Homo sapiens: one gene and its partners. The protein of the gene in region 1 interacts with the protein of each later gene in a biochemical or structural test. Each region holds a gene or a part of one and is shown in the gene's direction. Other genes may lie near its edges. The genes, in order: UBE2D2, RNF7, TRIM25 and MARCHF5.

Region 1 (7,380 bases):
TGGCTAATTTTGTATTTTTTTTTAGTAGAGACATGTTTCACCATGTTGGCCAGGTCAGTCTTGAACTCCTGACCTCAGGTGATTCACCAGCCTCGGCTTCCCCAAGTGCTGAACCTTGATATGAAAATTTGGTGAAGATATTACAAAAAAAGAAAATTATAAATCAATATCCCAGCTGGACGCAATGGCTCACACCTGCAATCCCAGCAGTTTGGGAGGCCGAGGCGGGCAGATCATCTGAGGTCTGGAGTTCGAGACCAGCCTGGCCTACATGGTGAAACCCTGTCTCTACTAAAAAATACAAAAATTAGCCAGGCGTTGTGGTGCACACCTGTATCCCAGCTACTTGGGAGGCTAAGGCAGGAGAATCACTTGAACCCGGAGACGGAGACTGCAGTGAGCCGAGATCGCACCACTGCACTCCAGGCTCGGCAATAGAGTGAGAGTCTGTCTCAATAAATAAATAAACAAACAAACCAATATCCCTCATGAACACAGATGCAAAAATCTGCATATCTGTTAATGCTGCAGTTTCATTTCTAGGAGTTTATCCTAAGGCACTCTTAGAGCTGTATAAAGATTAAGAGTCTGTTTATCAAGAAGAGTCATATGATTTTTTTTAAAAAAAGATCCTGTTTCTACAAAAAATAAATAAAAATTAGCCAGGCATGGTGGCTCCAGCTTATAGTTCCAGCTACTCAGCGGGCTGAAGTGGGAAGATCACTTGAGCCAGGAGTTGGAGGCTGACGTGTACCACTGCACTCCAGCCTGAGGGAGAGACAGTGACCCCATCTCAAGAAAAAAAAAGAAAAAAGATGAACTATAGGATAGCTAGGATATTTACCACAGCATTATTTTAATAGTAAAAATGGGAAACAAATGTTCCCCAAAATGTGACCAGTTAAATAAATATGGTACATTTATATGCTAGAATACAAAGCCATTAAAATAAGGTAGAAATATTTGAAACAGGAAAATTCACGATATATTGTTTATTTTCTTATTTGTTTTTTGAGACAGAGTCTTGCTCTGTTGCCCAGACTGGAGTGCAGTGGCGCGATCTCAGCTCACTGCAAGCTCTGCTTCCCGGGTTCACGCCATTCTCCTGCCTCAGCCTCCTGAGTAGCTGGGACTACAGGCGCCCGCCAACCAAGCCCGGCTAATTTTTTGTATTTTTGGTAGAGACGGGGTTTCACCGTGTTAGCCTGGATGGTCTTGATCTCCTGACCTCGTGATCCGCCCGCCTCGGCCTCCCAAAGTGTTGGGATTACAGGCGTGAGCCACCGCGCCCAGCCAATATATTGTTTATTTTCAAGGTAGATTACCAAACAGTATTATGCAATGACCCCACATTTTTCAAAGAAAAATATGTATTGATATTTATATGTAAGGGAAAAAAAGACTAGAAGGACATTAACCAAATGTCAAAAGTGGTTAATTATTGGATGATGAGAGTGTGGGTGACTTTTATTTCCTTCCTTTACTTATAGGTATGTCTTACAACAAATACATATTGCTTTTTTTTTAAGAGAGGATCTTGCTCTTTCACCACACCTGAGGTGCAGTGGAACCACCACGGCTCACTGCAGTTTTGACCACCCAGGCTCAAGCTATCCTCCCCACCTCAGCCTCCCAAGTAGCTGGGACCACAGGTGCGTGCTACCATACCTGGCTAATTTTTACAATCTTCTGTAGAGATGAAGTCTCTATATTGCCCAGGCTGGTCTGGAACTCCTGAGTTCAAGTGATCTTCCCGCCTCAGCTTCCCAAATTACTGAGATTACAGGCGTGTCCAGGAGCTTTTCTAATACAAAAGTTATTACTGAGAATAACTTTAAAAAAAAAATCTGTCGGCCGGGCGCGGTGGCTCACGCCTGTAATCCCAGCACTTTGGGAGGCCGAGGCGGGCGGATCACGAGGTCAGGAGATTGAGACCATCCTGGATAACAAGGTGAAATCCCGTTTCTACTAAAAATACAAAAAAATTACCCGGGCGTGCTTGCAGGTGCCTGTAGTCCCAGCTACTCGGGAGGCTGAGGCGGGAGAATGGCCTGAACCCGGGAGAAGAGCTTGCAGTGAGCCGAGATAGCGTCACCGCACTCCAGCCTGGGCGACAGAGTGAGACTCCGTCTCAAAAAAAAAAAAAAAGAAATCTGTCCAGTGGAGATTTTTGTACCCCTCCCATCACATTTCTTAGGAAGAAAATATCTGGGGCTGTGAGATGTTCCATTTTACCCTCAACCTCAACTATACCCACCCTGAACCACTGGATACAATTTTCTCTCACTGGGTGCACGGTGCTTCTGTCCTAATGGTCCAACCTTCTCAGTAGGTGAGGCAGTATGAGCTTTGCCACTCACCTACTGTGTGGCTTTTGGCAAGATCCTTCCCTTAGTTGGGCTCCAGTTTTTTCTTCTCTATAAATTCAGGAGCTAGAATCAATGATCTGCAAGGTCCTTTCTGGATGTAGCGAAAAGGAGACATTTAGAATCAGAAAACGCCAGGGGTAGATTTCAGAATGTGGGCATTACCTCCCAGCAAAATATTCTTTACTATTCTCCTGTGTAAGGCCTCTAGCCCTGGCTTGGCTCCGTATCTCACACCAGTCATGGTGTAGGGCTGGGCACAGGGTAGGTGCTCAGTGATTTAGCTTTTTGTCTCCATCTCCTAAAAAACAATTCCAAATATTCTAGGTTTGATTTTCAGCGGACCCTCCTGATGGGTATCTGGAGCACGAGGTTGGTTTTTTTTTTTTTTTTGGAGATGGAGTTTTGCTCGTCGCCCAGGCTGGAGTGCAATGGCGTGCTCTCGGCTCACTGCAACCTCTGCCTCCTGGGTTCCAGCGATTCTCCTGCCTCAGCCTCCCCAGTAGCTGGGTTTACAGGAACCTGCCACCACTCTCGGCTATTTTTTTTTTTTTTTTTTGAGACGCATTCTTGCTGTTGCCTAGGCTGGAGTGAACTGGCGTGATCTCGGCTCACGGCAACCTCCGCCTCCCGGATTCAAGCGATTCTCCTGCCTCAGCCTCCCGAGTAGCTGGGACTACAGGCGCCTGCCACCATGCCCGGGTAATTTTTGTATATTTAGTACAGAAGGGGTTTCACTGTGTTGGCCAGGCTGGTCTCGAATTCCTGACCTCGTGATCCGCCTGCCTTGGCCTCCCAAAGTGCTGGGATTACAGGCGTGAGTGACCGTGCCCGGCCTAATTTTTGTATTTTTAGTAGAGATGGGGTTTCACCATGTTGGCCAGGCTGGTCTCGAACTCTTGACCTCAGGTGATGCGCCAGCCTCAGCCTCCCAAAGTGCTGAGATTACAGGGGTGAGTCACCGCGCCCAGCCGTTGGTTTTAACTATTTGGGGCACACACTGTGATTTTTTTTCTGACGCAGCTGGTACAGTGCTTGCTTGTAACAATTTGCAATTCACTAAGCTGAGCAGAGTCTGGACACCTCGAAGGCACACATACATGCCAGTGGCTGAGAACACAACATTCAAATCCTCTCCATCTGGGGCCTTGGTCCGGAAGGCCAATCTCACTGCAACCCGAGCGGCTATGAGACATCTCCCTCGTGGCAGGTGCCCGAGCTGTAGCCACGCGGCCTCTGGAAAGAGATGTGCTAAGTCCCAGGACTTCAGAAGAGCTCTGTGACCTTGGCCAAGTCCCTTCCTCCTTCAGGAGCGCTGCAGTGGGCCTAAGTGCCTCCTCCCGGGACTAGTACGGGGACGGTCGTGAGATCTGGACAACATTCGCCTTTTAATATTTATTGATCTTTTGTGACACGCGCGTGGGTTTCCATCAGCAATGAAGTCAACGGTCGCGGCGCTGGAGCCTGCAGAACTCGCGCTCTAGATCTCGCGAGATCTCCGCCCAGGGCTTCGCAGCGTCACGCCCTCCGGGGCCGTGGCGGCGACGGCGGTGCGTAGCTTACTCACAGGGGCGGCCCGTATCCCTCCGCCGCCGGCGCGGCTCGGCCCTCCCTCCCCTGGCCCGCCAATCCCCGCGCCTCCCGACCTGCCCCTCGGTCGGGCCCACCCCGTGCTCCGACGGCCCCACCCCGGCGGCGCAGCCCGCCCGCCCGCGCGTCCCTCGGTCCACCTGCAGCAGGGAGGAAGACAGGCAATCCCTCCGGCTGTCCGACCAAGAGAGGCCGGCCGAGCCCGAGGCTTGGGCTTTTGCTTTCTGGCGGAGGGATCTGCGGCGGTTTAGGAGGCGGCGCTGATCCTGGGAGGAAGAGGCAGCTACGGCGGCGGCGGCGGTGGCGGCTAGGGCGGCGGCGAATAAAGGGGCCGCCGCCGGGTGATGCGGTGACCGCTGCGGCAGGCCCAGGAGCTGAGTGGGCCCCGGCCCTCAGCCCGTCCCGCCGGACCCGCTTTCCTCAACTCTCCATCTTCTCCTGCCGACCGAGATCGCCGAGGCGGCCTCAGGCTCCCTAGCCCCTTCCCCGTCCCTTCCCCGCCCCCGTCCCCGCCCCGGGGGCCGCCGCCACCCGCCTCCCACCATGGCTCTGAAGAGAATCCACAAGGTAAGCGGCCGGAGGTCGGCTGCGCTGCTGGCCAGCTGAGCAGGCTGCGGCCTGCACTTCCCGCCGTAGTCTCCGTCGGGCTCGCGGCCTCCTTGGATCTTGCTGCCGGTGCTGGCCCCTCGGGGCGGCCTCCATACCCCACTCCCAGTGATGGCGCCCGTGGAGGCCCCGGCGCGCAGCCCGCGCTTAGGCCGGAGGTGCTCTCGCGGCCTCAGCGTTCCTCCCCGGCTGCCCTTCCAGGCCCGCATGGTGTGGACTCTTAGGGCTTCTCTCCAGTCTGGGACTGCCGCTGCACTTGAGGGCCATTGTCGGGCCAGGATGGCGGGGTTGGGGCCGAGGGGGGCGCTGGGGCGTTGGGCGGCCCCTTCGACAGAGGTCGAAAGGGCTTCTCGCCCCATTTCTGTTCCCTCCTCCCACACCTGCCCTAGCTCCCTCCACAAAACCGCCTGAGCTCGGGCTGACAGAGGAAGCCGTTTTGCCCGATCCACAAGTATATCCTGAGTTCACTTACCTCTTGGGTGGCAGCACACATCGGTCCACCCTGCTTGTCCAGAAACTGTTAAGAGTTGGAAGTTCAGAAGAAAAAAAAAAGGTGACTTAATGAGGGAGGAGGGAAGTAGAGGGAGAATCATTTTATTCCTTGAGGTTGCTGTATGTAGTTAGAAACTAACACTTCCGTTTTGCAGGATTGGATCTAATAGAAAAGCTGTACATTGGCAAAGGTAGAGGTAGAAACCTGAACATTGAAAACCACCAGAGAAATTATACAAAAGTTCCTTTCACAGCCTCTTCGCAAAATGGACTTGACGCTATTAGGTGATATGTTTACCGAGACTCTTAACTGGGAAGGGGTTTTACTAGATTTTGTATTAAAAAGGATTTCTTTGCTCTTTAAAGTGAAGGGTTATTTAGTTATCAATAAGGAGGTTTTCCTAATAATACATCTAGACTATAAGATTGGCTTAAAATTTATTTTTTTTCCCTTTCTGATGTTGTAACCTCTTAGTGCCACTTTCATGTTTTTTTTCTTAGAAGTAGGGAGGCACCACTATTAATTTCTGTTTGGTGTTTCACTTGGCTACTCAGATTGGCTATATTAAACCGGTAGCTACTTTTTTCTTCAATACATCTTTTTCCTTTTAGTGGAGAACGGGGTCTTGCCGTGTTGTCCAGGCTGGTGTGGAACTCCTGGGCTCAAGCTAGCCTCCTGTCTCTGCCTCCCTTAAGTGTTGGAATTACAGGCATCAATCAGCCACTGCACACGGCCTATACCTGTAGCTACTTAGAAGTAGGTACTGGGGTTATCCATTCTGAATGATGGGATGGGGATGCAAGAGGAAGAGAACCAGTTTTTAGCTTGTCTTAAACTAAGTCAGAATACAGATTGATGATTTAAACACCTCAGCTCAGCGGTTGGTCCTCATTTCATTTTTGCTCAAAGACAGTGTGGAATCAGTCCCATTGGTTACTATAATTAGGTTAGCTCCTTAACTTCTTTTGACTCTGATTTCTAACAAATGAAGAAGGGCAGATTTTAGACAATAAATCTTGTACTAAAATGAAATGGTATTTGTTAAATACCATAAAGAAGCTTGAACCTTAAGCAAAGATGTCTTAAAGAACCGTTTAAGGGGCAGGGGAGCACACTGAGGAGTAGTCATCCAAAAAAAATATATACATATGTATTTTAAAGGCTTTTAGGAATTGCTAGGTCCTTATAGAATCTAACTGGGAAGTTATCAAATACCTGTAGAAGCTTGTCCTCTTATTTTATAACCTGAGAAAGAGCAAGTGGGTATAATGTGTAATAATTTACAGATAAAGAAATGTAGACCTGCCGGGCGCGGTGGCTCACGCCTGTAATCCCAGCACTTTGGGAGGCTGAGGTGGGTGGATCACGAGATCAGGAGATCGAGGCCATCCTGGCTAACACGGTGAAACCCCGTCTCTGCTAAAATATACAAAAAAAACTAGCCGGGCTTGGTGGCGGGTTCCTGTAGTCCCAGCTACTCTGGAGGCTGAGGCAGGAGAATGACGTGAACCGGGGAGGCGGAGCTTGCAGTGAGCCGAGATCGCGCCACTGCACTCCAGCCTGGGCCACAGGCGAGACTCCCTTTCAAAAAAAAAAGAAATGTAGACTTTAATCTCTACATTGAATTATATGTGTAACGGACTTTTTCAGAGAGGGAACTATCTCTTTGACACAAAACATACGTTTTAATTAATAATACTTGCTCTGGTAATATAGTTTCTTATGAGTTGCTACATATTTTCTAGAATAGATTTTCCTTAAAATATGCCTTTGTAAGATTTTTTTAATAAAATCAAGTTTAGAAATAATTTGAACTTTTTTGGGGGATAGAGTTTCAGTCTTGTCGCCCAGGCTGGAATGCAATGGCACGATCTCAGCTCACCGCAACCTCCACCTCCTGGGTTCAAGTGATTTTTCTGCTTCAGCCTCCCGAGTAGCTGGGATTACAGGCACGCACCACCACACCTGTCTAATTTTTGTGTTTTTAGTAGAAACGGGGTTTCACCATGTTGGCCAGGCTGATTTCTAGTTCCTGACCTCCGGTGATCCACCTGCCTCAGCCTCCCAAAGTGTTGGGATTATAGGCGTGAGCTACCGTGCCCGGCCTGAACTTTTTTTTTTTTGGAGACGGAGTCTCCCTCTGTCGCCCAGGCTGGAGTGCAGTGGTGCTATCCTGGCTCACTGCAACTTCCGCTTCCTGGGTTCAAGCGATTCTCCTGCCTCAGCCTCCGGAGTAGCTGGGATTACAGGCACTCCGCCGCCATGCCCAGCTAATTTTTGTATTTTTAGTAGAGACGGGATTTCACCATGTTGGCCAGGCTGGTC
Region 2 (8,132 bases), on another chromosome or scaffold:
TCTGCTTGTGCATATACAGGAATTTCTGGAGAGTCTATTAATGGTACTTGGGTTTTTATTGTATTCCTGTTTCACTGTTTTTATCATTTGTGAGCTGTCAATTTTTAAAAACTTAAAATTGTTCAATAAATTATGATGAGCTTGTTAAACATCTGTAACAGCGCCCTTTGCTTGCTGTGTGACCTGGTGCCAAAAGTGTAGAAGAAGCACAGTAAATGCTGTGATTTCCTGGGAGGACATGAATATGTGGTGGCAAAGAGTGGCCAGTGAGAACAGAAAGATGAGTACATTTTTTCTAAGCACAGAGGGCAATCCAGCTGAAGAAGGTAGGGGAAGTTCTATCCAATTTCAGAGATGTTAACATGTGAGGAAAAGACCATCCATGGTACACTTGGATGACTGTGCAGACCAGTCTCACGAGGATCCTGCAGAGGGGTGCCGGGGATGGCCTTGACAGGTAGGTTGGGGCCATATTGTGGTGGGACTTAAATGAACAATCAGGACATTTAGATTTTGTTCTGATGATAATGTGGAGCTTTGGAACATTTTGAGCAGGAGAGTGTCAGGAGGTAGGAAAATTAACCAGGCATGTTAGATTGAATGGCAGTTAGACTGGGGAGGAAAGGCAGGGAAGAAGTCAATACACTGTAATCCAGAAGCAGGGTGATGAGGTTAAGCTCCACAATAGGAAATGGAAAGTTTGGTTGATTCTAGAAATTTCTAAAGAAAGAATGAACAGATAATTACGTATGAAGGGCGAGGAAGGGAAAGAGTCAACAGTGACCGTGGTTTCAGACCAGGACAGTTATACCTACGAGAGAATTACATCTCAGGCAGAGAAAGGGAATTGTTGAAAGAAAGCTAAATTTTGCAAGAAAGGAAATGAACTCCCTTTCACCTGTCAAGTTTGAAGCAACAATGAGCCATTCAAGCCGATGTCACCAATATCTAATAGAAAAAACTCAGCAAATTTCAAAAAAGAGACAAAAGCATACACACAGTGCTATACTCATCCGCACCTGCAGCTCAAGAAGATTCAATGTGGAGCAATTTTAGACAAATGGATTAAAATCAATCCCCAAAACTCTACTTTCTCAGGAAAGTCACCAGGTTTCTAAAGAAGGCATCATGAGATTTAGGCATGGGTTTTTCTATTTCATTTTTCATCTATTCTGAAATATTCTACATCACTTCTTTTTTTACATCCGAAATTGATTTACGTCACACAATTGATGATTGATGTCTACAATTAATGAAATATAATGTTGGGAGGATTTAAGGAATTCTCCAACAAAGGCTGATTGCCTTGGTCACATGTACGCTTTCAGTATGGGGTGTGTGTGTGTGTGTGTGTGTGTTGGGGGAGTGGGGTGGCAGGACTAATGATTTCCGGCCATAGCACCTTCACCTAAGACCAAGAGAGGCAAATGAACTGGAGGGTTCCATGTGACCAAAGAAGACCAGAAAATGCTCAGGGACCTATGGACATAAACACAATTATTTCCAAGAAAAAAGATGAGCCATAACTCTTGTCTGACAAGTGTGATGGAGAGCAGACTTGCTTAGAAGGACATTCCCAGGAGGAGGCAGCTTATACATTTCGGGCTAGCTTTGATCTCTAGCCTCTAGGAACAATTTTCTTGCTTTGTCATTATGGTTCCAAACATTGGTCCTTTTGGGGAAACTACTCCAGCTCAACAAGCAAATGTCATCAGGTTTGTTTTTGTTTTTATTTCTTTCCCTAGTACAGGAAAGAAGTCCAGAATATGCCACTATAGCATAAGGATTATTTTGAGCTAAAGGCATTTGAGAATCAGTGGATGCAGGAAGAGTTGTTTTATTTTATTTTAATTTTTTCCCTGAACTTACTTGCCTCTCAAAAGAATTCAACTGTCTTAAATTCCTTCCCAGCAATTTCAAAACCAGGGAAGATTGACCCTATCTTTAGAAACAGGAAGTTGGTACTGGGATAATAAATCACCTAATAGACTTTGTCACAAAACTATCATATCTCCCATCTATTCTCCCAAAGGCCTGTTTATCTTTTCTGAAAGTTTTTTCCCAGAAGTGCCCTTTCTCCTTCTCCCTTTCCTTTATTTAGACAGTATATAAGCCCCAAATTCTAATTGCTCCTTGAGTCATAATTTTCTGTGAACTCTGACTGCTTCAGTGAATAAAAATCTATCTTTTCTCCTGCTAAGCTGTGTTTTGTTGGTTTAATTTGCAATCCCCCGAATACTGAACCTAAGAGGGTAGAGTGAAAGTTTTACCTCCCTGGCAACAGGAAAACTTATTTTGTTAAAGATGAATGGCATAGAAGGGGGAAATGATGGTTGGAGTGAGGACCAAAGAAATAACAAAAATGTCCACTTGTACTGAGACAAGTTTTTCCTAAATATTTATTAGTTAGTCCTCAAATATTTTGCTTAAGAGAAGTCCTCAAAATGAAAGAAACTACGTCTTCAATGTACTGAGCAGAAGGAAAGGAGACTGTGCAGCTGAGGAAGCCAGGCCTGAAAAATAAGTGTGGGTTGTGTCACCACACACCAAGGACTGGTGAGAGGAACAATGCACAGTGGTGGAGTGGGAACTGAGCAGGCCATGAGAAGGACAGATATTTGTTTTGCTGCATTCAAGGCCACCTATAGTTCCTGCCCTTTGGGTGCTCATGATGGCAGACAAGCCCTCATGAAGGTGAACCAAAGGAAGGTAATCACAGGGGACCCGTTGGCCCCACCACGCCTGAACAGCTGCTGCAGCCTGAACTTTCTGCCTCACTCCTGCTTTCCTTTCTCCCCATGCATGCTTGCTTGTTGCACTGAACTCTGGCGCATCACTCATTCCTGTTCTTTTTGTCAGGAGAAAAAGTTCTCCTGACATGCAGTGTGTCAAAACTGTACTCATCTCCTCCACCTGCCTTCCCACTTCCCGCCCCTATGCTCCCTCCTGGCTTCTATTTTAAATTTCATTGCAGCAGACACCTCTCTCCAGATTTCATGCCTCAGCAAGGGCACATACCATTCCTCCAGCGAAACCATTCTTTTCCTTTTCACCATTTCATCCTTTTGACTTTCAAACTTCTCACCAACTGGGTGCGTTTTATCCTCCTCTGGTGCCAGCCTTCCTTCTTTGTTAGATACCTAGCATTTACAGCCATCTCTAGGCAGATGTGTGGTCGTTCAGTAAGAAGAGAACACATGTTTTGTGTGCTCACTCCAATGGGTGTCTGGCTTATAAAGTAGGTGTGGTCCAATTCCTGTCTGCTGCCACCATTGTGCCCTGCTCTGGCCAACAGCTCAGAGAGGTTTGCTCTCTCCACTGGCCCTGAAGACCTCCCATGTTCCCCCAGTTCAAACTTCACCTCTCTCATGAGGCTTTCCCTCACTGCATCCTCTACCTCTCTCATGAGGCTTTCCCTCACTGCATCCTCTACTCTCTCATGAGGCTTTCCCTCACTGCATCCTCTACCTCTCTCATGAGGCTTTCCCTCACTGCATCCTGTACCCTCACAGCCCTTAACACACCACTCAACAAATACGCATTTGCATCTAACCAAATGTGACCCTGTGTCCATATTTATGTTTCTGTATATTAATGCATTCTTGTTTCCCCTGCCAGGCTCCATTAGTCTGGTTAGCTTTTGCCCAGGTATCAGGAAATGAGGGGATGGGGAGAGGCTCAGAATCCAAACTTGACAGAGTAGCTGTCCACCACTAGGTGATGGTGGGGTCAGGCATCTCCTTAGGCTGGCTGTGCTTCTGTTTTCTTTTCAATGGAGATACCGGCTTTCTTGGAAACACATGTGATGGTGGGCTAGCCGTAGAAGCACTACTATAATAACGATGTGATCTTTGTCATTTCACTTCTTCAGACCTCATTAGTCCTACATATAAAAAGAGGAAGTTAAACTAGCTCAAATGTACTGAGCAGAAGGAATGGAGACTGTGCAGCTGAGGGAGCGGGGCCTGAAAAATAAGTGTGGGTTGTGTCGCCACACACCGGGACTCCTGGGATCCCGACCTCTTTTAGCGGTCAAAAGAGGGCAAACTAGTTGCCTAACAATATTTAGAGCTATTTCTCTCTTTTCACTCTCATTCTACGAGTGTACACCGGAGTTTCTAGCAACTACATGGTATGTGAAGTCATCCCTCTAATGATAACCTGTAATGAGGTTACTACTGTGATTTTTAATGAATACATTTTAAAATGTTTTAATTTCTTCAAAAGCAAACATTAATCTCTACATATGTGTGTATACATATACAGGAAATGTATGTATATATGAATATACATATATTCATTGTATATGTGTATATATATTCATACATAATATGTGTGTGTGTATATATATATATATTTACACATTTCCTACATAAATAAAAGTTCTTTAAGGTCCTAATAATTTTTAAGTGAAAAGGAGTCCTGGGACCAAAAAGTTTTGAGAATCACTGAACCAGATTTCTAGATCTTTAAGATCATTTATTCACTCAACAAATAATTGTGCCTCCTGTGGCCAGGCATTTTGCAGATACGGAGGATAATGTGGTGATAGCAACATGTTTCCTGCTCTGATAGAGTTTTACATTTGGGAGGGAAGAGACAAACGAATAAATTAACAAGATAATTTCTGAGAGCAGTAGGTTTAATGAAGCCGTAAAGCAGGACACATATCCCTGCACAATCTGTGCGCCTGCTCAGACGTAACACCCCGCAGCGCAGCAGGCAGATTCAGCGGCGTCGCCCCATAAGGGCCCGAGCCCTCTCAGTTGGCCTAGGACGGCGAGGGCGGGGCCTGCCCGCCCCCCTGGCGCTGGCGTCAGGTGACGTCACTGTGCCGCGCCAGCCAATCGTGGGCAGCCGGGGTCTAGGCACCACGGTGGCTGGCGGCCTGCGGGCGGCGCTGTGGCCCGTCGGGCGGCTCCACAGAGCCGCCCTAGCCTTCCGCCTTCCCCAAGCCAACGTCTCCGCCGTCGGCTCCGCGGCGCCGCCATGGCCGACGTGGAAGACGGAGAGGAAACCTGCGCCCTGGCCTCTCACTCCGGGAGCTCAGGCTCCAAGTCGGGAGGCGACAAGATGTTCTCCCTCAAGAAGTGGAACGCGGTGGCCATGTGGAGCTGGGACGTGGAGTGCGATACGTGCGCCATCTGCAGGGTCCAGGTGATGGGTAAGCGCTGCACGCGAGTCCAGGGCCGCCCTGCGGCCTCCGGGAGCCGACCTCGGGGTTGGGAAGGGACGGGCGTCCGTCAGAAGCCTCGGAAAGTGCCCTGCCTGGGAGAGTGGGTGGAGGTCGCCCTGCCCCGGCGCCGGAGGAACGCGGAGCCACGCTCCTGCTGCGGCTCCTGAGGGCTGCGGCCGCCGCCTGGGGCTGCGGGGTTGTGCAACAGGCGCCCTGCGCCGGGTGGTTGGTGTTCTAGGGAGAGAGACGGGCAATAAACGGAGTTAAACAAGGTAATTTCAGGTAGTGATGGGTGTGACCAAGAAAGTAAAACCGGGTGATTGTTGGGAACTAGCAGGAAACACTTCGGTTTGTGTGTCCAGCCCCAGCCCCACCTCTAAAAGCTCAACACAAGGTGGTCAGGGTAAAGGCCGTGATTCAGCAGTGAACTTTAATAGTCTTGGTCACCACCAAAGTGATGCTCCAGAGTCATCTTCCACAAAACGACACCCTTAGTTCTCCTCGAGGGACGCAGGAAAGTGTTCATAGCCATTGCATTTCCGGATTAGCTTACCGCCGCTCTTCGAATGGCTTTTAAATCTGGATTGATTTAAGACGGGTCAGATAGCACTAGCGTGGCTTGAAGGGAACAGTGTGGTTCAAGAATATCTAAGTTTCATGGAAGCTGAAGAATTGTAAGCCCTTTTTTCAGAAACGTAAAACTTCACCTCCATCACACCCCCCTCTCCATATTGGATGCCATTTCCTGGAGAAGATACTGTGCTGCTCTGAGTCATGCCTTTGTGGAGAACCCTCTTACAAATATGTCTTCTTTCTGTGATATTTTGAGTTAAAATATTAGACCAAGTGAAACTTTTCAGAACAGCTTAATCTTGTTATATTTTATATGGTTCTAAGAACTCAGACCACTTTGAAAAGCAGGTGCTATTTAAATGCAAGTTGTATTTTCAGATAGGGCATTTAAAATTACTATGAGACCCTCTTCAGTGGAATTCTTTATTGAGGGTAGTTAAAGAAAACGGACATTTCTATCGTTTGAAAACTGTGACTTGTCTTGAAAAATGAGAGAATTGGAGAACATACAGAGAATTGCTCACCTTAAGGGGGGTGAGACTGTAAACATACCAGAATCAAGAGATTTCGCAGTTTATGCTCTTTTGTCTTTTATTCCTAAGGGCTTGTTTCAAAGAGGATTTACAACAATTGGATTCAGATATTTTTATCTTTCTCTTTTGAAAGACCTTGATATTAGACATGACCCACTTATTTTACATGGATCACTTGAGCCCAGGAGTTTGAGACCAGCCTAGGCAACATCGCAGGACCCTGTCTGTACAATTAAAAATTAAAATAAAAAGCTGACCAGGCATGGTGGCCTCCAGCTACTCTGGAGGCTGAGGTGGGAGGATCCCTTGAGCCCAGGAGGTCGAGGCTACAGTGAGCCTTGTTCCTGCCACTGCCACTGCCACTATACTCCAGCTTGGGTGACAGAATGAGACCCTGTCTCAGCAACAAACAAACAAAACATATGAGGCTTTAAAAGTATCTAGTTTATTTGCCAGCAATACAGCTGCCCCTACCCCCACTTAGGAATCATAATTTCTAGTTTGGGAAGCATTTTTAACTGATCCAGGAGACTCTTTTTTTTTTTTTTTAAGACAAGTTTCGCTAAACATTTTATCTCCTAAATAAATTTCCTTTAGTTTAAAGGAAACTAAGCTTTCACTTAGTTCCTTTCCAGTTTAAAAATAATGTTCCCAAAGGGTATTTTCAAAAGATTTGTCTCCCAAAAAGCTATTTCCTCCCCAAAGGAAAAACATTTAAAGAGTAAGTGGAAATGTATAACCTGAAATAATGATTGAAACTTTGCAACAAATAAACTTTACTGAGAGATTTTAATGTAGGTCAAAGTATAGACTATAAATGACACATTTCATCATAAACTTTCTAATTATAGCAAGTATTCTGCTACTACAGGATCAGTCTTGCATATTTACAACAGCTGTACTTTGGGTTCAGGAAATTATTCTAGGCTAGACCTTTGTATTTTGTTTATGAGGTGTTAAAACCCACTTAGAGGTCAGGTGACAGCAGAAGGAAATTTTTTTTCCAGACTTCCTAGTCCTTACCCTAGCATCATTCTAAAAGGTGTTATTGTACTCCTTAGAAATGTGCTGTTTTAGATTCTAGGAAGATCATTAAAGCAATTTTTTATCTTTTATCTGAAACTTTAGGAATTTGTGTAGATTTGGGTCAGTTTTGATAATCTACATCAGAGCTATAAGTGTAATTTAGAGATTCCTAAATTCAGCAACAAGAACCCACTTAGTTCCCTTTCCTTAGTATTTGGAATTTGTCTCACACACTTGTGATTTATTATACTTTCTGCTCCCAAGACTTGCCTGTCAGCCCATTCTGATATGGATAACACTCTCTTCGTTTCCACTCTCCTCCCTTCATTCAGAAAGGAGTGATGATTACACAGTGAGCAAGTGCTGATGAAAAGGGGAATAGGTTTGCTAGTACAGCCAGTTATAATAGCCAGAGTAACCCTTCATGACTGTATCACCTTGGATATTTCACATAACTTTTTGGAGCCTTATTTTCCTAATTTGTAAAGAGGCAGTTGGGATCACCAACCTTAATATTAAAATTCTGTGATTGCACAGAACTAGCGCCAGATTCAGGTAGGATGTCTTCACTGTTATATCACAACCCTCATGATATTTAGGTGTTTGTCTACGTCCCCATTTGCTCCTGAGCCCCTTGAGACCCAGCCTTGGTCATTTTGGTGTCCCCAGTGCATAACTCCTTGCACAGAGGAGATAGTAATTGTGGGATTGAAGAAAACCTCAGGAGGCAGTGGTTGTTTTTAATCCACACTGAAGAGACTAGGGCAGTGGTGTTTTTTTAAGGGTAAGAGCATGTGGAAAGGAGCAAACAAATGCCTGAGCAG
Region 3 (7,400 bases), on another chromosome or scaffold:
GCCCGGCCCATATATATATATTTTTTAATCTTTTCTTTTAGAGACAGGTTTTCACTCAGTCACCCAGGCTGGACTACAGTAGCATGATCATAGCTCACTATAACCTTAAACCCTGGACTCAGGTGATCCTCCTGCCTCAGCCTCCTGAGTAGCTAGGACTACAAGCACGCACCACCACACCCAGCTAATATTTTAAAACATTTTTTGTAGAGACGGGATCTCACTATGTTGTCCAGGCTGGTCTTGAACTCCCAACCTCAAGGGATCCTCCCACTTCAGCCTCCTGAAGTGCTGGGATTACAGGCGTGAGCCAGGAGCCTGGCCTAAACTCTGCTGTTTAATCCTAACAACAGGCCTTCCTCTGCCAACACCTACCCCCCTGTCCTGACTTGCTGAGTCCTATAACAGGTCTGCTTTTTGAGCCCTGCTACTGCTGCTCATCACTGTTGGCAGAGCCAGTCTCAGCTGGGCAATGCCCTTAGCCTCGGGGGCTGGGTTGCCTTGGCCACTGGTGGGGTCGGACTTGAGACTCTGGTGCCTCCCATGTGGAAGACCCAAGTCTCTAGTCTGTGAAGGGATCCTCAGGATTTCAAAAAGTCCTTTGCCTTTGATTAGGGGATTATTGCTGCTACCAAAGTTTTTGGGTCACTTTCCTTTGGTCTGGAGTCGTGTGGGCACCATTCATGATGAGGGTACTGCCGCATGTGTTTGATTAATGGTGTATCAAATCTTTCAAAATATAGGGCTCAGGGTGTAGTGCTATGAGCAGCTCTTGAAAGTGAAGCAGTTGGCAGCCTTGGGGTGTTCTGAGGTCTCTTCTTGCTCTGAGGCCAGCAAGGCCGGATGTATGTAGGCCTGGTCTTTGGCCCACACCTTATCTTGGCCACTGTTAGAGGCCAGGTCGAAGGGCAGTGTCACAGAGGTCAAGTTTGAAACATCATGAGCAGCTTGGGCTTTTCGGATTGAGTTAGTGTGGCCTTGGTCCCTGCCTCCAACCCCTACATGTGACTGTCACTGGGTTGTTCAAATCTAGATTCAAGATCAGGTTCCGCCCAGAATATCTTGGGTGGAGTTGAAGAGTCTGGGAAGTGGAAGAGAGAGCCAGAGTATGTTGAGCCTGCTAGTTACGGGAAGGAAATTTTTTTTTTCTAGAAATCTCCAGCATGCTCAGTTTGGGCATGTGTCTATGATTTTAATATCGGGATCTTAGCTGTGCCAGTTACTAGTAGTGTAGCTGGGGCAAGTCACTTAATTGTTCTGTGCCTCAGTGTCCTTGTCTGTAAAGGCTGGGTAATTCCTACCTCATAGTGTTGTTCTTAGCTTTAAGTAAGTTAATACAGGTAAAGCACTAGAACAGTGCCTGGCATACAGTAAGTGCATAATAAATACTGGCTGCTGCTGTTATGGTGGTGGTGATTTTCCTTCCCATTTCTGTGCAGTATTCATCTGAGCAGGGAGGTAGGAGACTCAGATATTGATTATGAAAATTAATTGAAATCAGATGAGGATATTAGCTTCCTTCATATACAGTTTGCCTTTGTTTCTGGAGGTGGCTAGGACTGAGCAGATTTGCACCTGGGCTTCAGCCCCTGTGAGCTACTTCATCTTTTTTTTTTTTTTTTTGAGACAGGGTCTCACTTTGTCACCCAGGCTGGAGTGCAGTGATGCCATCTCAGCTCACTGCAGGCTCAACCTCCCGGAATCAAGCGATCCTCCTGCCTCAGCCCCCTAAGTAGCTGGGACTACAGGTGTGCACCACCACACCTGGCTAATTTTTGTATTTTTAGTAGAGACAGGGTTTTGCCATGTTGCCCAAGCTGGTCTCGAACTCCTGAGAGCAAATGATCCACCTGCCTGGGCCTCCTAAAGTGCTAGGATTACAGGCATGAGCCACTGCGCCTGGCTGGCTGATTCATCTTATTCCCAGCCCTTGGTGGTCCCAGTCTGCAGTGAGCCTTGGACTCTGATTTCTGTCTCCCTGCCCTGTGAGGCTGACAAAGGCTCCCAGCCTTGTTCTGGGATTGGCAGATGCCTCTGGAGAGAACATCCTAGATATCAGGCTTATCTCTCTGGGCCCCCTTCCCCCTTCTCCTGGACCTTGACTTCTTAATCCTCTGCTTGATTGGCTCTCCAGCATCTTTTAGCAGATCTCCCCGCTGCCCCATTATTTGGACTGCTTTCCTGGCTGTTTGCAGTGGGAGGATTGGTCTGAGTGGCCCCACCTGCCATTACCGAAGCAGCTGTCCCAGCTCGTTCTGTTCCTGTGTGAGCTTGGCCACCTTTCTGTCCTCCTTGCTTGAGTTTCATTGGCTGTAAAATGGGTAATTAGAGAAAAACTCATAATAATATAAGCTGGCATTTAGTATGTTTTTCCTAAGATCCAGGCATTGGGCTGAGTACTTACATTGTTTCAATTAATCCTCCCAATAGCCCTGTGAGCTGGGGACAGTTGTATCTATTTTGTGTCCAAGAAAACTGAGGTGAAGGACACAGTTGCACAGCTGGGAGTTGGGACTGGAACCCTGGTCTGTACTGTCCTCTGAAAAGGATGAAGGGAAGTAGTAAGTATTAGAATGCTTCAAAAAGCTCCAAGCAGGCAAGACTCGGGTGACAGGACTTGGGGTGGCAAGACTTGGGTGGAGTGGAAGAGGAAGGAATCTATCCTGTGGGATAGTTCCAGGGATGGCTTCTGGTGGGGCTGGGCTGAAGAGGTGCATTCTCAACCTCATTTGTTTTCCCTGCAGGCCACCCTGAGGCACAAACTAACTGTCATGTACAGTCAGATCAACGGGGCGTCGAGAGCACTGGATGATGTGAGAAACAGGCAGCAGGATGTGCGGGTGAGTGGCAGGGCTCTCCAAGGCCAGCCCTGCCCTGTGGCTTCGCTCAGCTTCCACGCGGGATGGGCGTGGCTCTGACCATGACAAGGCTGGTGTTGGGTGCACTCACAGTGTCAGGATGAAACATCAACCTTGCAAAGCATGCAGACAGCTGTGTGTCTGAGAGAGATCCTTTGCAAACCCAAACCAAAAATTACCTATAAGCCCAACTGTGGGGGAAATCATTATAAATTAGGATTAAAAAGTAGTAATTCAGAAAAATGGTTATGATATAAAGTGGGAGAAAAAGAGGAAGCAAAAGTATATAGCTCATAGGGTTGCATCTATTTACAAAAAGGAAGTATATTAGTTTCATAGGGCTACTGTGACAAATTGCCAGAAACTTGGTGGCTTACAACAACAGAAATGTATTCTGGCAGAGTTCTGGAGGCCAGAAGTCCAAAATCAAGATGTTGGCGTGGCCACACTCCCGAAGTCTCTAGGGGAGAACCCTTCTTTGCTTCTTACAGTTTCTGGTGGCTCAGGCATTCCTTGGCTTTTGACTGCATCACTCTGATCTCTGCCTCTGTCTTCACATACCTGTCTCTTCTTCCCTTAGTGTCTTCCATCTCCAATAAGAACCCTTGTCATTGGATTTAGGGAGCACCTAGGTAATCTATGATGATCGAATCTCAAGATCTTTAATTGCATCTGCAAAGACCTCTTTCCTAAGTAAGATTACAGTCACAGGTTCTGGTATATGGACATGTCTTTTGGGGGCCCAGCATTCAACCCATTACAGAGAGCATGGAAAGAAACTGAAAGGGAATATTATAGAAGGATCATAGTGGAAGTGTTGGAGTGGTAAATTAGGAATGGTTTTGTTCCCCCTGTTTTTCAGATTTTCGATACGTTTAAATTGCTTTTAAATGGAAAGATCAGATTTTTACCCTTTTTCAGAGCTGCAGCACCAGTTTTATTGCAGCAGTTATGGTTTCATTAGATGAGATCTAGGTTAGAATACCAGCTCTGTCACATACTAGTTTATGTTGCTTTGGTCATGTTGACAGATCTTTGAACCTTCGTTTCCCAATTTGCACAATGGAATCACAAGTTCTTTCTGAAGATGACTGTGAGACAAATGAAAGAATGCACGTGAAAGTACCTGTATTTGTTAGAGGGCAGGCTATACTGCTGTAACAAAGATACACCAGAATTCAGAGGCTTAAATATGATTGAAGTTTATTTTACCAACTGACAGTCCAAACCCACACATGAGTAACCCAGACTAAGGGTTCATGTGATCATTCAGGGATTAAGGGTTCTCCCTTCTTATTACCCTACTATTCCACAAGGTATTGTCCCAGCCTCTTTGGTTGAAGCTGGGTTACCATTACATCTTTGTTCTAGCCTGTGACAAAGGGACAAAAAGGAGGTGGAGGACAACAAGCAATTTTCCTTTACACAAGTGACACAGTGTTGCACATATCACTCCTGGGCATGGGTCACTGGAAGGAGTTTTGTCACATCGCCTAGTCTAGCTGCAGGGGAGGCTGGGAAATGTAGTCTGAGTAGCCACACGCCCAGATGAAACTCCAGGGATGTTCTCTTACCAAAAGGAAAAAAGGGAAAATGAACACTGGGGGACACTTGTAGTCACATTAGAAGTTGCACAGTGAAAGATTGGCAAAGAAGGCTGGGCGCAATGGCTCACGCCTGTAATCCCAGCACTTTGGGAGGCCGAGACGCATGGATCACCTGAGGTCAGCAGTTCAAGACCAGCCTGGCCAACATGGCGAAACCCCATCTCTACTAAAAATACAAAAAATTAGCCGGGCGTGGTGGTGCATGCCTATAGTTCCAGCTACTCAGGAGGCTGAGGTAGGATAATTACTTGAACCCGGGAGGCAGAGGTTGCAGTGAGCCGAGGTCATGTCATTGCACTTCAGCCTGGGTGACAAGAGTGAAACTTCATCTCAAAAAAAAAAAATATTGGCGAAGAAATACTTGAATTCCTCTTTTCCAGTCTACTGTCCTTCTTGTGTGTTTTTCTCTTTGTTATGTTTGATTCTGAGCTATTGTCTTAGTCTGTTTTCTGCTGCTATAACGGAATACCACAGACTGGGTATTTGCAAAGAAGAGAAGTTTATTTGGCTCAAAGTTCTGGAGCCTGAGAGGTCCAAGAGCATGCTTCCAGCATCTGGTGAGGATCATCCATAGCGGAAGGATGGAAGGCAGGAGAGCGGGACAGGAAGAAGGAGGTCAAACCCTGTGATAAGAATATGAATCCATTCATGAGGGCAGAGCCCTCGTGATCTAATCACCTCAGTGGCAATTAAATCTCAGCATGAGCTTTGGAGGAGACATTCAAACCATAGCAGCTATTGAGGCTACCCAAGATGTGAAACAAAATTGCAGCTACTAAAGCAGTGCTGTCCAGCAGAAATACAGTAGGAGTGCAGATGTCATTTTAAGTTAATTTGAATAGTACATGAGATTTATTGTATTTTATTTATCTATCTTTTTTAGGACAGGTCTCACTCTATCACCCAGGCTGGAGTGCAGTGGAACAATCATAGCTCACTGCAGCTTTGAACTCCTGGGCTCAAGTAATCTTCCTGACTGAGCCTACTCCCCTTCACCACCCCCACTCTCCAGGAATACAGTCCATCTAATTTTTTTATTTTTATTTTTGTAGAGAAACAGTCTGTCTATGTTGCCCAGGCTGGTCTTGAACTCCTGGCCTCAAGCGATCCTCCTGCCTCGGTCTCCCAAGGTGCTGGGATTATGAGCATGAATCACTGCACTTGACTGAGATTAATTTTAATATTATAGTTTATTTAATTTGGTATATCTTAAATATTATTCTTTCAACATATCATCAATTTAAAAGTTTTAAGATATTTTACATTCCTTTTTTTGGTGTGAAACCCTTGAAAGCCAGTATGTATTTTACACTCATGGCAAGTCTCAGTTTGGACTAACCACATTTCAAGTGCTCAGTAGCCACATGTAGCAAGTGGCTATGTTATTGGAAAGTACAATCCTAGAGCATGATATTCTCTAGAAATTTTCCAGAGCTGCATCCTGACTTTTTGTTTTGTTTTATTTTATTTTATTTTTTTGAGATAGCGTCTCGCTGTGTCTCCCAGGCTGGAGTGCAGTGGCACGATCTCGGCTCACTGTAACCTCTGCCTCCTGGGTTCAAGCGATTCTCCTCCCTCAGCCTCCTGAGTAGCTGGGACTACAGGTGCGCGCTGCCACAACCAGCTAATTTTTGTATTTTTAGTAGAGATGGGGTTTCACCATGTTGGCCAGAATGGTCTTGATCTCTTGCTGACTTTTATTTTTAAAAATTGCCCATGAACCACCTTTAGCTTAAGAAATAAAATATCATCGATGCAGCCCCTCCCATCTGTTTCTCCCTTATTCTATCCCTCTTCCTCTCTTCCAGAAGTAACCACTCTCCTGAATTTATTTATTCATTCCCATGCGTTTCTTTGTGCATATAGCCATTCTGTTTGTTTCTAAGCTTTATTGAAAGAGCATCATATGGTGGATCTTCTTCTGCAAGTTGTTTTTCTCTCATGGAGATTTATCCAGGCATAGCTCCAGTTTATTAATTTTCATAACTGTTTAATATTCCATCCTATGAATAGCTCCCAGTCTTTGCTTCAAGTCTTCTTCTGATGGATGTTCAGGTTGATTCCAGGTTTTTGCTACTTCAGACAATGCTGCCTGTGAACATTCTTATGCATGTCTCAGGGGCAGGTGGCTGCAATTTTTTGTAGCACATATTCCTAGGACTGGAGTTGCCGAGTCATAGCCTATGAGCACCTCCAAATTTATTAGATATTGCCAAGTTGCTCCCCACAGTGGTTTGTTCTCCCACAAAGTACAGGTAAGAGTTCCTGGAACTCCACATCTCACCCATGCTTGGGGCTGCAGCCTTAGCACTTTTGCCCCTTTGACGGGCATCCTCTTACCTTGGCCCTCTCAGATGACTGCAAACAGAAAGGTGGAGCAGCTACAACAAGAATACACGGAAATGAAGGCTCTCTTGGACGCCTCAGAGACCACCTCGACAAGGAAGATAAAGGAAGAGGAGAAGAGGGTCAACAGCAAGTTTGACACCATTTATCAGATTCTCCTCAAGAAGAAGAGTGAGATCCAGACCTTGAAGGAGGAGATTGAACAGAGCCTGACCAAGAGGGATGAGTTCGAGTTTCTGGAGGTAGGTCGCCACAAGGCATTGTTGAATGTTTTTTTTTTTTTTTTGCCTGATGTCATGCTGTTGATGATAGGGCCCTCAAGGAGCGGGAGACTGGAAGAGGTCACTGGAAGCATCCCTGAGACACACGCTGTATTAGTTTTCTGAGCTGGGCAACAACTTACCACAAATGTAGGGGCTTCAAAAAACACATATTTATTCTCTCAGAGTTTCTCTGGCTCAGGAATCTGGACATGGCTTTATGGGTGGCCTGCATAGGGTCTCACCAGGCTACAGTCTGCGAGGGATGGCCAGGCTGTTTCCTTTGGAGCTCAGGGTTGTCTTCCAGGCTCATGTGGTTGTTGGCAGAA
Region 4 (7,665 bases), on another chromosome or scaffold:
CCCTTTATGGTAGACAGTTCAAAACAAGTATGATGGAAGAACATTAGAGTGGTATATTATTTTAAATTTTCTGACATATTTAGAGCAGCTCATACTCAGTTATCTCTAAATCCATTACAGAATTATTAAAATAGTGGTGTGCGCCTATAATCCCAACTCTTTAGAACTCTACATCATCAAGCTTTGTTCTTGTCCTCTGAACTTGGGAGAATCTTTAAATATTTTCTGTAGGTTAATTTCTATTTCAAAATATATCTCTGAGGAAAAAGTTGTTTTTGTCTATAGTCATGCTGGTTACTCTCTTGGCTGAATATCATTTATCATAGACTTTTTTTTTTTTTTGAGACGGAGTCTCACTCTGTTGCCAGGCTGGAGTGCAGTGGTGCGATCTCAGCTCATTGCAACCTCCGCCTCCCAGGTTCAAGCGATTCTCCTATCTCAGCCTCCTGAGTAGCTGGGACTACAGGTATGCGCCACTATCATAGATTTTCAACCCTACATATAAATGCAGGAGTGCATTTCAATGTGGTTTTGGTCAGATTAAGGTCTTAATAATCTAGACTTTTTTCCTTCAAAATCAGAGAATATATTGTAATTCCAATTATTCTGAGTCTTATTGGAAAATGTAAGACCACAAAAAACAAAGCTGACAAACAATATTGAAATTCACACAATATGTGTCACCCATTTCAAATGTTAGGATTAATTTATTTTCTGAGTTTTATCAATCACTATTTTTGCCCATACTAATAAGAAACAAAGTTGATAATAAAGAATTATCAGTTATCTGTTTATATGCTTCTTTTCAGATACCCTTATGAACATTTTCTGTGGAGCTAATTACTCTTTTAAAAGCTTTATTGAGATGTAATTTATGTAACATTAAAATTCACCCCTTTTAAGTGTACAATGGGTTTTTGAGTATATTTACAGTTTTGCCACTATTACCATAATCTAATTTTATCTTATTTGTGATATAATTCACAAAATTATATAACCAGAACCATTATCTAATTCTAGAATACTTTCATCCCTCTAATAAGGAACCTCATACTCATTAGCAGTCACTCCCCATTTCTCCCCAACTCCTTCAGCCCTATGCAATCACTAGTCTACTTTCCGTCTCTATGGAGTTGCCTATTCTTGACTTTTCATGCAAACAGAATCATACAATATGTGGTCTTTGTGACTGGCTCCTCTCACTTGGTATAATGTTTTCAAGGTTCTTTCATGTTATAGCATGTATCATAACTTTATTCCTTGTTTTCTCCTAATAATATTCTATTGTATGATACACCACATGTGGTTTATCCATTCATCAACTGGTGGATATTTGGGTTTCCACTTTTTGGCTATCAAGAATAATGCTGTAGGCCAGGTGCTGTGGCTCATGCCTGTAATCCTAGCATTTTGGGAGGCCGAGGTGGGAGGATCATTTGTGCTCATGAGTTCGAAACCAGCCTGGGCAACATGGCAAAACACCATCTCTACAAAAAAAATTTTTTTAAGCCAGACATGGTGGTGCGCCCCTGTAGTCCTAGCTACTTGGGGGGCTGAGGCAGGGGGAGTGCTTGAGCCCCTGAGGCTGAGGATGCAGTGAGCTGGCGCCACTGCACTCCAGCCTGGATGACAAAGCGAGACTCTGTCTCAAAAAAAAAAAAAAAAAACCCAGAATAATGCTGCTATGAACATTCACAAACAAGATTTTGTGTAGACATGTTTTCATTTCTCTTGAAAATACCTAGAAGTGGAATTACTGGGTCACATGCTAATCACTCTTTAGACCAGTAACAGGATTTTTTTCTACTTTAAAAGGTTTTTGACACAGCCAGAAAGCTGATTTTTCATAAAAATGCAAACATAAAATCCATTTGTTGGTATAATAAGGTCAAGGTGCACAAGTCTTTGCTATCAACAAAAGGTATCATATTTTCCAATTTCAGTTGAAACAGACATTCTAACATTGGTTAAGATCTTAGAATCTTGGAGTTTGTACTAGTGTACTTAATCCATATGCTGGGATAAAATTCTGTTTTTAAGCAGGAAGTATATATCCAACTCCCATGGCTGACAACTGCTTAAGAAATAAGTACACAATAAGGTTAGACTGACACAGCACAAGGAGCAAAAAATAATAATTTAAAATGTTAAGACACCGGGCTGTGCACGGTGGCTCACATCTATGATCCCAGCCCTATGGGAGGCCGAGGCAGGCAGATCACCTGAGATCAGTTCAAGATCAGCCTGGTCAACATGGTGAGACCCTGCCTCTGCCAAAAATACAAAAGTTAGCCAGGCATGGTGGTGCGAGCCTGTAATCCCAGCTACTCCGGAGGCTGAGGCACGATAATCACCTGAACCCGGAGGAGGAGACTGCAGTGAGCCAAGATAGTGCCACTGCACTCCATCCTGAGCAACACAGCGAGACTCCGTCTCAAAAAAATAAAATAGACCAGGCGCGGTGGCTCGCCCCTGTAATCCCAGCACTTTGGGAGGCCGAGACGGGCTGATCGCCTGAGGTCAGAAGTTCGAGACCAGCCTGGTCAACATATAGTGAAACCCCATCTCTACTAAAAAACACAAAAATTAGCTGGGTGTGGTGGCACACACCTGTAGTCCCAGCTACTTGGGAAGCTGAGGCTAGAAGGATCACTTGAAGTCAGGAAGTGGAGCTTGCAGTGAGTCAAGACAGCGCCACTGCACTCCAGCCTGGGCAACAGAGCAAGACTCCATCTCTCAAAATCAATGAATTAATTAAATAAATGAATTAATTAAATAAAATATTAGACACTGGTCACATGCGGTGACTCACATCTGTAATCCCAACACTTTGGGAGACCAATGCGGGTGGCTCGCTTGAGCCCAGGAGTTGCAAGACCAGCCTGGGCAACATGGCGAGACCGCGTCTCTACCAAAAAAAAAAAAAAATATATATATATATATATATATATATGTATTATATATTATAAATGTATATATGTATTATATATTATAAATGTATTATATATTATATAATACATATATATTATATATAATACAAATATATATAAAATATTAGACACCCCGATTAAACTAAATACTCATTTTCTTTCCCTAGGAGGAGTGTGTGTGTATGTGTGTGGTGGGGGGGGGTGGGTGCTGTTTCTCAAAAACATATTTCAAAAATTGGAGGCCAAGTAAGCTTCTGGTCACATTTTTTGGGTTTGTTGTTTTTTCCCAGCAATGAACACTCTAGTTCAAATATACTTCGCAAATTTTGAACAGATAATGAAAAGTTGATTGTAAAATTCTACATATAAAAAGAGCTTTAAAAACACATTTTCATTTTTTAAAAAATCAAACACCTTGTAGCAGATATTAGACATAATCAAGGGAAAACTACCAGCGTCCTACCAATCACAGCCCTAGAGAAAACGCCACAGGTCGTCCAAAAAACGCATTCGTTTGAGCCGACAGCTCTTTCCTCCCGCCAAAGCTATCCCTCGAACGTCAGAAGCTGACCCAAGGAGTGACTGATGATTTCTCCTTTTTGATTCCCCACCCCCGCCACTCCCAATCCACCTGCTTGAAGGTGTCAACGCGACTAGAAACGGTTAACAGTGACCAGCAGCAGAGAGAGAAACAAACATCCCTGACAACCCACAGCTGAGTAAGCAAGAGCTGTTTATTCACCAACGTGTTCCATTTGGAGACTGTCGGCGAGCCCTGGAAAGCCCAGGCACATTTGAGAAGGTTCCTGGAGAGGGAGAGAATCATCTTTCCTTCCCCCAACTCCCCAGCCCCAAACACACAGAGAGACTCGGGTGGAAGCTGTCTGGTCCAGGCAGTCCCTATTTGCCCGCCCCCTCAAGAAGAACCTCACGCACCAAACCAACCGACCCCTCGCGGAGGTGGTGTAATTCCCCCAAAATGGGCTCTGCCGCAGGAGAGGCTGGCTCCAGCGCCGGGGGCTTCGGAAGGAGTTTCTGCCACCCCCACTGCCGCCACTGACCGCCCCGACGCCACGGCCGGGGCCGGGGACCCTGATAAGAAATGGCCCTTCAGCCCCCTCCCCTCACCTGGCTCGGTCCCACCTGAGGGCAAGAGCGGAGGCAAAAACAAACAGGCAGGGAGGGCTGACCTTGTTGCTACCGACAGTGGAGCGGCGCATCCTGCTGCTTCCTGGAAAGCGGCCCGAAAGACATTTTTTCCCCCTGGAGGAAGGAAACGGGAGGGCGCCGGCCAGACGGCGGCAGGCGCGGAGGCGTTGGTCCGGGCGGGCTGTGCAGCCTCTAGTGGAGACGGTCCGAAGACTACATCTCCCAGGCTGCTCTGGGCCGCCCTGCGTCGTAACCCTGGCGCGCACGGAGGCGGCGACTCTTACCTCACAAAGGTAGCTCCTCCGCCGGCAGCAACTCGGCGCCCGCGGTCCATGGACCGGAACCTCGGGCCGACGGACGGGAACCCGGGCCGCGATCGCCGCCTCCCCGCCTCAGGCTCCTCCTCCTCGCTCTCCGCCGCCTCCGCCGGACTCCCGCAGGCCCTGCACCGCCGCCGCCAGGCTAGCGGAGCTGCCCCGGGAAGCTGGGTGACGGGTTCGCGGCTGCCGCCGGACTGCGGCCTACTCCGCCGCCTCTCAGTGCTATTGTCCCTGGGCCTGGCCTTGAGCGGGTCCACTGGGGAAGGCCGTGTGCGCCGGCTCCGCGGAAGATGCCGGACCAAGCCCTACAGCAGATGCTGGACAGGTACGGGCAGCTGTGGGGGGGACCGGGAGCCGCCGACCCTCGCTCTGGCCCTGCCCGCGCCCGCCCTCGAGGCTCTTGGTGAGCAGAACCCGGCGTGCCGGGAGGAGTTCCACGGCCAGGGGGCCGTGAGAGGGGCAAAAAGTTTGGAGTCTAGACCTGGGGGAGGACAGAGCGAGCGGCCTGGGTCGTAGACTTTGGGTGAAACTTAGCTAAGGAGTGGCGTCTGGTTTCCTTGGAACCCCGTTTTGACCTGAGAGGGACTCCTGTTAATCCACAAAATTAGTTTTCCTTACCCTCTTCCCCTCCCCCTTCCCCCTCCCCAACTTGTGAAGTGTTTGTCAGCGATGTCACTGGCAAGAACCGGGTTATCTTTCAGGGGAATGACCCCCTTATAATTTTAAGTCTCTGTCTGAGAACCAATGATAAGCATTCTTTTGGAAAGCCTGATAGGCTGATTTCATTCTCCCACTTTCCCTGAACCCGCACCCCCCGTCCCCCCCGCCCCATCCCGTCCCCACCTCCGAACTGTAAGGTCAGAGTATCCGCAAGGGAGATTTAACGGTCAGACCAGAGTAGAGGTTATGGAAAACAGCCAAATGAGTCCAACGCTGAACATTTAGTGTACTTGACGATCGTTGAGTTCATTGAAGACGTTTCAGCTCGTACAGGAGTCCAGTTGCCCATTCTTGGGGGGCCCCAGTCGGTAAAACTCTTTGTGAAGTCGGGTGCACCGCCCTCTGCTGTTGAAATTCTGGTCCGTGGGTCCTACCATGAGTTTTTGGAGACTCTAGATCCACATTTCCCCCGAGCCAAGTCTTACTTCCTGGCATAGCAAGTTGTACAAGCTAATTCATGATGTTTGTGGTTGCTTACAATTCTCAATAGACACCACTTGCCACCCATTTCAGCAGGTGGTACCAACTCTTTGTACTCAGTAAAATTCCAACTGTAAGGTGTTAAATGAAGGCCCTCCCTTAATTGAGTTTATACCCAGTTAAATGCTTTTGGGCCTGCCACACCCAGAACACAAATGACCCAAGGGTACACATCCTTCCAGAGTGACAGACATTTTTTTGGAGCTTAGAATTTTGAGCCATCTCAGTTAATAGGAATTATGTCACTGATTTTTTTCAGTTGAGATAACTGGTGATTCATCCAGCCCTTGTTTCAGGTCAACATCCTGACAATTGTATTGACTGCTTTATATATATATGTGTGTGATATGTGTGTGGTTTATAAGCTCTTGGAAGCAGAAACTTACTATTGTTTATCTTGAATCCCAGAACAGAGCCTGGTACTCAGTAGGTAATCAGTAAGTATTTGTTGTATGAACTAATGCACAAACTTATTTGTCAGTTTCCCCAGTTGTCTAGGGGGTCTGATAATTTACCAGGTTTTCCTTTCATTGTAAATTGGCAAATTGTGGCAAATTAAAATATGCCCAGAGGAAACCACCTGCCACTGCCAGTTCTATTCTGTTGAGACCCTGTTCTGATGTGGGGTATTTTGTAGTTAATTTTTTTCCTTTGAGGGCCTCCTGCTTTTCATTTTTACATAGTGACTTTTTTTCTTCTTTTTTTGAGACAGGGTCTCTGTTGCCCAGACTGGAATGCAGTGGCAGTGGCAGTGGCATTGGCATGATCTCAACTCACTGCAACCCCCGCCTCCCAGGCTCAGGTGATCCTCCTACCTCAGCCTCCCTAGTAGCTGGGACCACAACACATACCACCATGCCCAGCTAATTTTTTGTATTTTTATAGAGCCAGAGTTTTGCCATGTTGCCTGTGCTGGTCTCAAACTCCTGGGCTCAAGTGATCCTCCCGCCTAGCCTCCCAAAGTGCTGGATTGTCAGGCATGAGCCATCGTGCCCAGCCTAGAAAAGTTCTTATGTCCAAAAGCTGACCTAACTTTTCATATGCTCTTTGGATATTTCCATAAAAGTAAGAAGCCAAAGAGTGAGCCTGGGCACGGTGGCTCACCCTTGTAATCCCAGCACTTTGGGAGGCCAAGGCAGGCAGATCACTAGAGCTCAGGCCTTTGAGACCAGCCTAGCCAACATGGTGAAACCCTGTCTCTACTAAAAAAAAAAAAAAAAATACAAAAATTAGGCAGGCGTAGTGGCGTGGGCCTGTAGTTCCAACTCTCGGGAGGCTGAGGCATGAGAATTGCTTGAACCTGGGAGACGGAGGTTGCAGTGAGCTGAGATCGCACCATTGTACTCCAGCCTGAGTGACAGAGTGGAACTCCATCTCAAAAAAAAAAGCTAGTGAGGCATTTAAAACTTATTAACAGAAATGCGAAGATTCTGGCTGCCATTTACTGAAGTAGGTGACTATGACACTGGCTTACTCTCATCTTTGTACTACTCTCATCTTTGTACTCTTTTGACATACCTTAAGGTAGATTTTTAACATGACTTTCAAAGACCGTTATTGTCTAGATTAGTAGTTGGCAACCTACTTCCATGTTAGAATTACCTGGGGAGCATTTCAGAATATGCATGGATGCTGGACTGTAAGACCAATAAGATCAAAAATTTCTGTAGGGTAGAGCCTGGGCATCTATATTTTAAAGCTTTTTAAATGTTTTAGATATGGCAGAAACCTACTGCCCTAAGTCCTAAGTCAGTGATATCTTTCATGATAAGAGATAGTAGGGTATAGTGAGTAAAGCTTGGGCTCAGAGATAGAAAGTATGAAATTCGAATTTTGCCACTTACTAGCTATGTGACTTTGAACTTAGATTCTGACACTATGTATATTATCATTTATAAAATGAGAACCCTACTTCACAGGGCTACAGCAAATGAAACATACATCTCTATAAAACAGCAAAACACTCTATGTTAGCCAAATAGAAGGCACTTAAGACTAATGTAAACCAGTTTGGCCATTTTTCCCCCATCTACTTTATGTTTACAGCTTTCTTCACCTGGGCTGGC

Evidence for each region.
Region 2: the proteins of UBE2D2 (region 1) and RNF7 form a complex in vitro, tested with the Homo sapiens proteins (5 studies listed by BioGRID).
Region 3: the proteins of UBE2D2 (region 1) and TRIM25 form a complex in vitro, tested with the Homo sapiens proteins (5 studies listed by BioGRID).
Region 4: the proteins of UBE2D2 (region 1) and MARCHF5 form a complex in vitro, tested with the Homo sapiens proteins (7 studies listed by BioGRID).

Annotation. Positions count from the first base shown.
Region 1 is NC_000005.10:139,557,293-139,564,672, forward strand, and holds the start of UBE2D2 (ubiquitin-conjugating enzyme E2 D2), read left to right. Parts: upstream 1-4,046; 5' UTR 4,047-4,499; coding exon 4,500-4,523; intron 4,524-4,951; exon of another isoform or gene 4,952-5,115; intron 5,116-7,380.
Region 2 is NC_000003.12:141,733,353-141,741,484, forward strand, and holds the start of RNF7 (RING-box protein 2), read left to right. Parts: upstream 1-4,945; 5' UTR 4,946-4,989; coding exon 4,990-5,164; intron 5,165-8,132. UniProt on the Homo sapiens protein: Catalytic component of multiple cullin-5-RING E3 ubiquitin-protein ligase complexes (ECS complexes), which mediate the ubiquitination and subsequent proteasomal degradation of target proteins.
Region 3 is NC_000017.11:56,903,908-56,911,307, reverse strand, and holds part of TRIM25 (E3 ubiquitin/ISG15 ligase TRIM25), read left to right. Parts: intron 1-2,744; coding exon 2,745-2,840; intron 2,841-6,819; coding exon 6,820-7,053; intron 7,054-7,400.
Region 4 is NC_000010.11:92,286,806-92,294,470, forward strand, and holds the start of MARCHF5 (E3 ubiquitin-protein ligase MARCHF5), read left to right. Parts: upstream 1-4,361; 5' UTR 4,362-4,689; coding exon 4,690-4,724; intron 4,725-7,665. UniProt on the Homo sapiens protein: Mitochondrial E3 ubiquitin-protein ligase that plays a crucial role in the control of mitochondrial morphology by acting as a positive regulator of mitochondrial fission and as an important regulator of immune response.